Regions from separate parts of the Homo sapiens genome. Here region 1 is linked to region 2. The links come from fine-mapping of genetic effects on gene expression. A gene starts in region 2. The other region holds a variant in brackets. All regions are shown on one strand. Distances are from middle to middle.

Region 1 (5,000 bases), 21 kb before region 2:
CAGGATAAACGTCTTGCCGTGAAAGGGAACTTCAATGGTGTACACGGTGTCCCCATATTCCTATGGCAGGGACAGAAGGTGGCAGGGAGGAGAGTGGAGGCAGGGGGTGGGCTGGTGGCACAGAAATGGGTGACAGGCAGGGCAGGTTTTTAACAGCTCAGGGTGGAAAACTCCAGGAGTTTGGGGACACCTGAGCAGCTGTTACAAAACAGTAGCTCTAACAAACCTATGGCACTGGCAGGAGAGAGGCTTTTGATGTCGAGTTAAAAGACGGGGGGACAGCTGCAGCTGCAACCACAAAAAACCATGTCTCCAGGCCAATGGGGCTGCCACAAGAACTGGCCAGAGAGAGGGACTGGGGCATGTTGCTCTCTGTTTTCCAAGCTCTCTACGATCTTTGTAGATAATGTTGTTTTGATCATGAAACGAAACAACGGATGCAGAGCAGAAGCCTGGCTTCCCCTTCAAAGCCTGGAGCCAAGGGGGCAGAACAGCAGGGAAGTAAACATGGGGGGTGCGGGGAAGGGGGGCCAAGGGGCACGGGGGAAACGTCCAATCCAGCCCAGCCTCCTGCCGACCCGAGGGCCCAGCTCCCTCTCTTGGGGCAGGAATATGGCTCCAACCCATGTAATCTTTGGGTTTCTTCCTCAGGCCTCAGAAAAGAGAACAGAAACTCCTAACACGCATGGGAAGGTCAGGTGGGAGAGGGCTTCTTACATTATTCTTCTCAAACTTCCAGTTCTCTTCCTGGGCCAAGATCTGGTCCACCACTGCCGTGGCCTCCTTCCCCTGGCGGATGTACTCCCGCTCCTGGACGGAAGCAGGAGGCAGGGAGGGGTCAGCCTGGGGCCTGCAGTCCACCATGTTCGTGGCCTGTTCTCTCTCTAGACATACCACATGCTTCCCAGAGGGGCCTGGCCCAGCCACATGTGGGATCTGGGCTGGTCTCCCTGGGCCCTGCAGGCTTGTGGCTGCTCCACCTGTGTGCCCAGGCATGAGGCAGACCAGGGGGGCCGGACTGGTGGTGGGGGAGACACTCGGATGGGCATTGCCCGAGGTTCAGCCTCTACTGGGAAACCCCTGCCCACCCCGGCTGACCCCTGCACCCGCCCTCCTCCAGGCACCCATTCCAAGGGCAGGGGTTAGGGGTAGGCAGGCAAATACCTGAGCAGAGAAACTTTTCTTCCCAGCAACTTCTTCATCTGATTCATTGTCAGACCCTGCAGAAAACAGGCACAGATGACAATGGCAAGGGGTGGGGAGAGAGTGTGGGGAGGTAGTGGGGTTCGGGTATGTGAGTGCAAGGATGTGGGGGATAAAAGTGTGTGGGAGAGGGTTGCTGGCTTTCCCCAGGGAGCCTGATAGAAGGAATAGAAAGAACAGACCCAGCCTACCCCATTCCTCACAAGGCCCCTCCCTGAAAGCAGTTCCCCCACACACCAGCCCTCACCTGCAAAGGATTCTGGGGGTGAATAGAACTGTCCCTCGGACAGAGCACCGGAGAACAGCAGGGGTCCACGGGCAACAGCAACCTGGGCGGCAAGATACCCTGGAGGAGCAGACTCGGTCCCGGACCGAGGACAGTTACACCCTAGCAGCCTGGGGTACCCCCACCCAAGCTCCCCCTCAGGCTACTGGAGGCTGCTCAGAGGTGGCGAGATGCTTCAGACTGACTCTCATGCCCGCAACTCCCCTCTCTTGGGGCTGTGGGTAACCCTCGCTGCACCCCCCTACCCGCAAGCACTCACATCGCTCCTCTTCAGCTTCCTGGGGTAGGACTTTGAAGTCAAGGAACCAGGTCTCCAACCAGGCGAGGACAAAAGAGACGATGGGGAGCAGGTAGCCAAATGCCCCTTTGCTGAGCAGCTGTGAAGGGAGGGGGCTGAGCTCCATGGCAGGGGTCACCCCAAACCCAGAGCCCCCTTCTGTGGCTACCAACTCTAGCCAGCCAAACTGGCATACACCCCATTCCTGGTAGCAGCTGCTTGGGAACCCTCTCAAGTCTGCAGCAGGATAAACTGGGGTTAGGCTGGAGAAAGAACCTTCTGATTCCTAGAGCTGCAAGGGGCTAAGTCAGGGAAGCGGGTGAAGGATGATTCCTTATAGATACCAAAGGACAGGATTCCCTCTCCCCCTAACCCGGACAACAGGGACAGACACCCCAAATTAGAGAAATGCTCCTCTCTAGAAGCATACCACTCAGGTCTGATGCCCACCAGACTG[G/A]CCAGACCCTGAGCCACTGACCTCAGAGAGGATGACCTTGACAATGAGGAATGCACTGGACACCAGCGTCGTGACCTGCCCAGGGGAGGGAGGGAGGAAGGGGAAGGCAGAGGCTGGGAAGTGAGTCCTCCTCCATCCCATCCCTTCCACCAGCCCTGCCAGGGCCCAGAAGCTGCCAGGAAAGTGGCATCTTACCGCAATCACCCACCAGTGCCGGAGCCGCAGCACGGCATAGCCTAGGAGCAGTCCAGAGAAGCGGAAGAAGGCCAGGACCTGGTGGGGGACGGGAGCAAGGCAGTCACAGGAAGCTACTGCCCCCCACCCTGCTGCAGGCTGACCTCCCCTCTGGTCCTGCCCCCACGTTCCCTTCCTATGGGCATGCACACCTCAGGGGACAACGACTGAGTCAGCATGTCTCTGGGACAATTTGGATGTAACCTTGCACAGGGGTCTTATCTTCCCTCTCCCACCTGGGGCTCTCTGAAGGGGGCTTTGTGGAGGAAAGGTTTTTTTTTTTTTTTGAGACAGAGTCTCGCTCTGTCGCCCAGGCTGGAGTGCGGTGGCACGGTCTCAGCTCACTGCAACCTCCGCCTCCCAGGTTCAAGTGATTCTCCTGCCTCAGCCTCCCAAGTAGCTGGGATTATGGGTGCGAACCACCATGCTCAGCTAATTTTTTGTATTTTTAGTAGAGGCGGGGTTTCACCATGATGGCCAAGCTGGTTTCGAACTCCTAACCTCAAGTGATCCACCCACCTCAGCCTCCCAAGGTGCTAGGATTACAGGCGTGAGCCACTGCGCCCAGCCTTGTGGAGCAAAGGTTTTAATGACTGATGGCTCCCGAAGGATGGGAGCCGAGTCTCTGATCAGACTGGATATATGCTGCCAAAAGAGAACCCAGCAGAAGTCATTTCCCTGCTCCCTCTCTGCCTCCGGGGTCCCCAGGATCAGCCAAGGCCACTCACAAAGATGTCGAAGAAGGAAGTTTTAAAGTTGTACTGGATGATCTCCTGCTCCAAGTTCTTACGGATGCCTGTGTTGGTCTGTGAGAGGGAGACAGGAAGAGCTCTGCAGGTAGAAGCAAGGGCCTGGGGCTGCCCCTCACCTCCCGGAAGGGGCAAGAGGTAGGGGATGGAGGAACCTGGAGGGGAGGCTGTTGATGCTAAGCCACCACCCAGGGGGCCCTGGAAGCACCAAGGGATCTCAGCCCACGGCCAGAGACCTCAGGCACCAATACCAGTCCTCTAAGGATCCAGGCCGCCCCGATGGGCAGGGCTAGCTTCCAGCACCCTGCCCAGGAAGGGGCAGGCTTGGAGGCTTCGGGGCTGTGCAGGGGAGGCAATGCGCCCTATACAGGGCCAGCAGAAGGGCGCCGAAAGCCCACCTCTGACAGAATCCCATCTCCCTCCCAGCACTGCGGTGCTCCATCTTCCCAGCCATAATCCATCTGGGCTGATGGGGGGTGGGGGTGGGCAGTGGTGTCAGACGGAGCCTCAGGTGGCAAATCAATTGATTAGGTTTATGCTTAATGGGCAAAATCCATCACGCTGCTTGAGAGGGTGAAGTGGAGACGGAGTGGATGTGTCCTTGCCCCTGTCCCTACCCCAGCCCACCAGACATTTTCACCAGGACCCCTGAGGCCTTGGCCCTGACTCCAATGTCCAGAGGTTTGAGGGAACTGGATGGACACCAGGCCAGACTGCGACCTGACTCCTTGGAATGACGGGGGTGACGGGCCTAGGCTCCTTCAGGTGGGGCACCAGCCACCCTGGAGAAGGGAGGACACAGGGACTCTGGGCGATGGAGCCCAGGAGCCCTGGAGAGGAAGACCCCTCACAACCGCCTAGACTGGGGCTTCCGCTCTCCAGCAGGGCAGCCAAATCTGGGGGGGCTTGTTAAAGATACAGATGCTCCCCCACTGAGCACACAGCCCCACCATGTGCCTCTTCCTCAAGCCCACCCCAGCTCCATGAAATCTGATGCCACCTCTCCTCTGGCTGCCGGTGAGGCCCCCAGGCCTGCCACCCACCCACCCCATCCCACCCAACCCACACCACCCAGCACTCCTCTTGCTCCTCAGACTCTGCCCTGGGCTCTGCAGCCCCTTCCACCCTCAGTCACTAGGCCTCAGAGCTCTGTCCTCCTTCCTCTTTCCAGCCTGGGCACCCACCGGTGCTGACCGATCAGGACTCGGGAGAGCCAAGTCTCAGCCCCTGCTTTGCCACTCTCTGGCTCCAAACCCCCTGCTCAGCACGACCCTACTGAGTCCTTGTAACCACTGGGCAACACAGACACAGTCTGTCAGCGAACTAAAAATATATGCTCCCAAATACAAAAGTAAAACTACAAGACTGAAAATCAATACAATTTTAATTAAATGTCTGCCAAGGGAAACATCATGTGGACTCTACTAATTGTTCAGTGCAGGATTCTGAAATGTTTCATGACATCTGAAAACAATTAGTAAGTTAGATCTTCTCACTTTGCAAGAATTCCCAGGTACGCATGAGGACTGCAGAGCAATCGCAGCCAACACAGCCAAATAACTTCAAAAGCACAATTACAGAGGCCAGGCACAGTGGCTCATGCCTCTAATCCCAGCACTGTGAGAGGCCGAGATGGGAGGATCACTTGAGCCCAGGAGTTTGAGACCAGCCTGGGCAACATAGTGAGACTCCATCTCTACCAAAAAAAAAAAAAATAGCCAAATGTGGTCATGCACCTGTGGTCCCAGCTACTGGGGAGGCTGAGGTGGGAGGAACCCTTGAATCTAGGAGTTG
Region 2 (5,508 bases):
CGCTTTATAGGCCCCATTAACTGTCAGCTCCTCAGAAGCCGCCCCTGGTCTTTTTCTCCCTCTAGTTCCCAGATCTATACATTTCTCTAGATTTAATGCTTGCCATGTAACACACACACACTTCCAGACTGGTTTTCCTGAGCAGACCAGGTCTGAGCCTTTTTCACTCTTGAATCTTCACTCAATAAATCCAGACCCTGCCCCCAGTGTCCTCCACTCCAGCATTTTATTTATTGGCAAAGAGCCAGGCTCTATCCAATGACTAGTAAGCCACTTCAACCATCCTCAGGCAACTTATGAAATTAAAAATCATAACTGGTGAACTATGTTGTCCTTACATAATAGTAATAACTTTTTATTTATTTATTTTAGAAACAGGATCTCACTCTGTCCCTCACACTAGAGTGCAGTGGCACAACCATATCTCGTTGTAACTTCAAATTCCTGGGCTCAAAGGATCCTCCCACACGTACCACCATGCTCAGCTAGTTTTTTAAATTTTTGTAGCGATGGGGTCTCACTATGTTGCCCAAGCTAGTTGCAAACCCCTGGCCTCAAGCGATCATCCTGCCTTGCCTCCCAAAGTACTAGGATTAATGCATGAGCCACTGCACCCAGGCAACTCACTTTAATTTATTGAGCATTCTTGTGCCTAGCACTGGTTTAAGACCTAAACATACAATATTCCATTCAATCCTCACAACTCTATGAAGTAGAGACATTCCTACCTCCATTTTACAAGTGAGGAAATTGAGGCACTGACTTCATCAAGGTTACCAAACAGGTCAGAACCCAGGCAGTCTGATCCAGGAGTCTGTATTCTCAGCTACTATGCTATTATGGACAGGGTGCTACAGGACACAGAAGGGCAATTAACCTTGGGGGTTAGGCGGAGGCAGCGCTGCCTGCGCTGAAAAACATGTAGAAGGTAGCCCAGCAGACAAGAGAAGGAGGAGGTTTCCAAGCAGCGGGGGCTGGTGTGTGCAAAGTCATGAAGATACGAACAGCAAGGGTAGGCATGGCGCATGCTGCAGTGCCGTATTATTGGACCTTAGGGTGCACACAGGAGACTGCTAGGTCAGATCACAGAGAGCTGTGTAAATTGTGCTAGGGGTTCAGCACATAGGCAATAGAAAGCCAGAAAAAGGTTATCAGCAAGGAACTGGCACCGTAAGACTTGTGTTCTAAAAGGATCACAAGAGTTACAGTTTGGAGACTGGGTTGCAAGCTGCCAGGGCTGGACTGTTGGGAATTGACAATACATCAACAGCGTGGTAACAGAAGAGATGGAGCTGGCCCAGGTTTGAAGGATGTTCAGGAAGTTGGCAGTACTAGGTCACTTTTAAGATGTGGGACTTGAAAGAGAGGAGAAAGTGTAAGGAAATTACCAGACTTCCGGCTGGGTTGGGGTAGAGGAAGAATTAATCTGCAAGGAAAAGACCAGTTCAAGTTTGGACCCAGTGAGCTCCATGTGAAGCAGAGCTGTCCCAATGGCCGCTGGATGGGCAAGCGTGGAGCTCCAGGGAAGGGCTGCGCTGAAGATGTGGATCTGGGTATTTAGTTGGTGTAAAGCTGAAGCCGTGGGGGAAAATAAGACCACTGAGATTCAGTGTACAGAGCGAGGGGTTGGGCGACAGAGGAAAACGTGAAGCGGGACTTTGACCGACTGTCAGAGCGGTACGAAGAAAACCAGGAGACATTGACTAACCCAAAAATGCGGGGTGAGGGAACGTGTCATTAGAAATGAGTGTCAATGGTACTATGCACCTCTAAGAACTCAAGACTTCAAAGGGCCCTTTTAATACCAATTAGGAAGTTATTCACGGCCGTTTCGAAAGGAAGTTGGGGAGACACGGGATGACACTGAGACGCAGAGCTACCGGAATGCGTAGATGTTTTCCTCTCACCCCAGATTCCGACCCCTCCCCATACCTGCCCCTGCTCATAACACCCAGACACCTCACCCTCTCCTCTCCCCTCAGTTAAGACGGAGGCTTTGGAAGGAGATCCCGAACGTCCTCCCCGGGCTCCCCAGGATAGGCGGGGTCGCCAAGAGTCATTGCTGGAGACCCCAACCCGCGCGGGGCGGCGCGAGGCCAGACAGAGGAAGGGGGCGGAACCTGAGACGCAGCGGGTGTGGGAAGGGTCGGACGGAACCCAGCACGGACAGCGGGCGGCGAAGCGGGTTCGACCGGCGGAAGACGGCCCTCGCACGCCACCCGCTCCCAGCGACCGCTCCGGGACCCACCTGCTCCATGTCAGCCACGGCCCCGGCTCTTCCCGCCCCAACCGCAGTCCGGCTCCGCGGCCTCAGTAGCGCCTCAGAGCGGAAGAAGATCTTCCGGCAGCGCCACTTCCGCCGCTGAGTCCGCCCCCGAGAGCGAAGCGGGACTTGCGTTCGCCTGCGGCCCCGCCCCTTCGCCCCGCCTCCAGCCCCGGCCCTGCGCAGAAGCGGACTCAAAGGCCGGAGTCTAAGGGCCTACCTAAGGGTAGGGGAGTGGGAAGAAGACCAGGGCCGTCGTTATTAGGCCACACAGGCCTGGCACTGAGGGAAAAAGGGGAATTTCCCGAGGGGAGTCCTGTGGGGATGGGGAAATCTTTGGAGGAATCCAGTTATTCGAGAAGGACTTCCCCACCCCACCTGCCTCCTTCAGCCATCCCAAGCAGCAGCTAGAACTTCTGTAGTTCTTCCTCTGAGTGCCCCGAGCCTGCTGTCTGCCAGAAAGACTCCTAGACTAGAGGATTGGACAGTAGGGTCAAAACCCTAACCCTTGGTTGACCACCGGCCTTCCCTATCAGGACGCCCCATTACCTCCCTTTTCCTCCTGCTTCCCCTGAAAGAGGAGTCTCAGCAGTTATTTACAAAGATTTATTACAGCACGGGAGGGGTTCAGGCCTGGAGTCAGGGAAGAAGGGGAAAGGGGCAGAGCAGCTGGGGGACAAGGAAAACCTGGCGCCCCCCGCTGTGTGCCCCACCGGGGACATAAACTAGGCGGCATTCCTGGCATCAAAGCACAAAACGCAACAAAGAGGTCTCTGCCAGTCCATCTTCCAGGCACCCAGGAGGAGCAAGGGTGATTAAGGGAAGATTCCCAAAATGTTGAGGCTATGGAGAAAAACGCCTTAGTCCTGGACCCTGGTAGAAGCCGGTGAGAGAAGTGGTGACTTGGAATCCTCCATAGGAAAGTGGGTAGAAAAGGATCTAAGGGTACCTCAAGGTTCTCAGGACCTCCTTTCCCCAGATCTTAGGGTCCTGCCCTGTGGGTCTCCTGTGTCCAGGGGAGAGGATCTGGGGAGTAGAATTGTGAAGGGCAAATCCCTGTTCCCGGTTTTCTGGATTTTCCAATGTGGGCTGTCTCACATCCCACCTCCCGCTGGGTGAATGGAGGAATGACTGGCAGGGGTGGGCATCAGGCAGCAAGTGCCCAGGTTCTCTGGGTATCAGCCAAAGGTGGGCAAACAAGCAAACACAGACCAGCCTTAGTCTTCTAGAAGTCAGAAGCCGCAGCCCTAGCAGGCGAGGGGAAGAGCACAAAACAGGGTGAGGATAGAGTGGGTTTCTGGGGAACAGCGATGTCCCCTCCACTTCCTCCTGGGAGATGCAGGCTGGGTGCCTATGTGCCAGGCTCAGAGGGGGAAGGGCGCTGAGGTTCCTCCCCAGGCTCTGAAAGGCAAGCAGAGAGGGACTCAGGGCCTGGCCCCACCCACCAAGATCCCAGCCCCTCCTCCCCATTTCACACTCCCAAGCCTTACCACTTAGTGCTGGGTCTTCCACTTGGTCCTCAGAGCCTCCATCTCTCTCGGACTCATCCAGAGGGGGTGGGCGCTCCCAGGGCCCTTCCAGACCCTGGCCACAGGTTGTCTTTTGCCCAGCTGGGGATGGGAAAGAAGAGATAAGAACACAGGCTCTGCGTATCCATCCGGCTGTCCTGGAGTGTGAGCTAAGTGTCTGATGGCTGAGGTTAAGCTTTCCAGGGGCATCATGGAAGCATGGAGAGAGAACTGGGCTAGAACAGCTCTCCCAGCAACTAGCCATATGGCTTACGTAAGTCAGTTAGTACCTTTCTGAAGGAAATAGAAAGGGGGAAATTGTGTAGATTACCTTAAACAAGATGTAATAGTGAATACCCTGCCCAGCCCAGCGCCAGCACCCAGGAGCCACTAGGAGTCGTGGTGGTTTATATTGCTCCATCATAGGACTATCATTTGACCCGGTGCCCTTCTGCATTTTTTGTTTGTTTGTTTTTTTTTGTTGTTTTGTTTTGGTTTTTTGTTTTTGTTTTTGAGATGGAGTCTCACTCTGTTGCCCAGGCTGGAGTGCAGTGGTGCGATCTCAGCTCACTGCAACTTCCACCTCCCAGGTTCAGGGGATTCTTCTGCCTCAGCCTCCCAAGCAGCTGGGATTACAGGTGTGTGCCACTGTGCCTGGCTAATTTTTGTATTTTTATTACAGATGGGGTTTCACCATGTTGGCTGGACTGGTCTTGAACTCCAGACCTCAAGTGATCCGCTAGCCTTGGCATCCCAAAGTGCTGGAATTACAGGCATGAGCCACCGCACCCAGCCACCTGCTGCTTTTCCTGAGGGAACAGTCTCCTCTCACCCCTCTTCCACTGTTTTGGAGGGGTCTCAGTGAGGACTGATTCAGGTCTTCCAGCTGTCTCTTGCCCACAAAGGGACTGAAGCCCAGCAACAGCTTTTGCCCCCATGGCCAATCTCTTCACTGCCAGATATGCAGGCAGGAGGCCCAAGGCCTTTTGTTTGTGTGGAAGAGCTGACAGCTTCTAGTAGGGGTGGTTGACTCTTCAGTATTCCCATAAATAATGAGACTAAAAAGGTTAATGGGCCGGGCTGGTTCTTGAATTTTAAATTCTACATCTAAACACTAGAGGGCACCCTCCCACTCCATCCTAGGAAGGAAAAAGAGGAGAAACAGACAACAGTCCTGGAGAGGGCAAGTAAATGAGGCAGCCCTCTGCACCCCAGCAGAGACCACATCCTAGGTTCAAAAATGTAGGTGAAATGCAGGTGACAGGGGTGTTGGACTCTCCTGGTCCTCCATCCCTGAATGTCCTCACGCCCCCTTACTGCCATAGGTGGGAAGTCCTCTTTTGGCTCTAGCCTCAAACCCCAAACGGCCTTGGCCTTAATTCTCAGGGAAGAGAGGAATTATTAGGGAAAACCTGATTGGGAGAGGGACTGAGCCAAGGATGGAGGAAACCCATGTCTCAGGTAGGGCTGAGTTCGGGGCACCCCATGGAGCGAGAAGACAGGGAGGCCCCTGTGGTGTCACTACAGTTTGCGTGTATGAGACACTGAACTAGAAGGGGACGTCCTCGTATACTCAAGGAGGACCCACAGCTAATCCACATGTCACAGGCCCCTCAGCTTACCAGACTGCCTGATGACCTTCAGGACTTCAGCCTGGCTGTCCTCTTCTTCTTCCTCTTCTTCATCATCCTCCTCTTCCTCCTCATCTTCCTCTCTTGGATAACCCAGCTCCCGAAG

What was found. PIP is the estimated chance that this variant, and not a neighbour inherited with it, causes the effect.
Region 1: its variant is the best candidate, but not a certain one, in a credible set for the expression of STARD3 in whole blood (TOPMed, PIP 0.52).

The regions. Positions count from the first base shown.
Region 1 is chr17:39,655,271-39,660,270 of GRCh38, reverse strand. STARD3 (StAR related lipid transfer domain containing 3) reads right to left here. Exons shown (of 15, transcript NM_006804.4): 3 at 3,186-3,263; 4 at 2,419-2,496; 5 at 2,245-2,298; 6 at 1,749-1,866; 7 at 1,451-1,549; 8 at 1,165-1,220; 9 at 718-810; 10 at 1-60. Among named protein-coding and RNA genes, the nearest start is that of TCAP, 7.6 kb to the left of the region's middle. RefSeq lists an enhancer at 1,180-2,055. The variant G/A (reference allele first, on the strand shown) is at 2,224.
Region 2 is chr17:39,633,972-39,639,479 of GRCh38, reverse strand. STARD3 (StAR related lipid transfer domain containing 3) reads right to left here and starts at 2,336. Exons shown (of 15, transcript NM_006804.4): 1 at 2,249-2,336. PPP1R1B (protein phosphatase 1 regulatory inhibitor subunit 1B) reads right to left here. Exons shown (of 7, transcript NM_032192.4): 5 at 5,394-5,508; 6 at 3,754-3,873; 7 at 2,856-3,664. The coding sequence ends at 3,615. It overlaps LOC124903998 (a long non-coding RNA gene), which reads left to right and starts at 2,190. Exons shown (of 2, transcript XR_007065749.1): 1 at 2,190-2,489; 2 at 4,454-4,842. RefSeq lists enhancers at 1,665-1,784, 3,568-4,191 and a silencer at 2,325-2,394.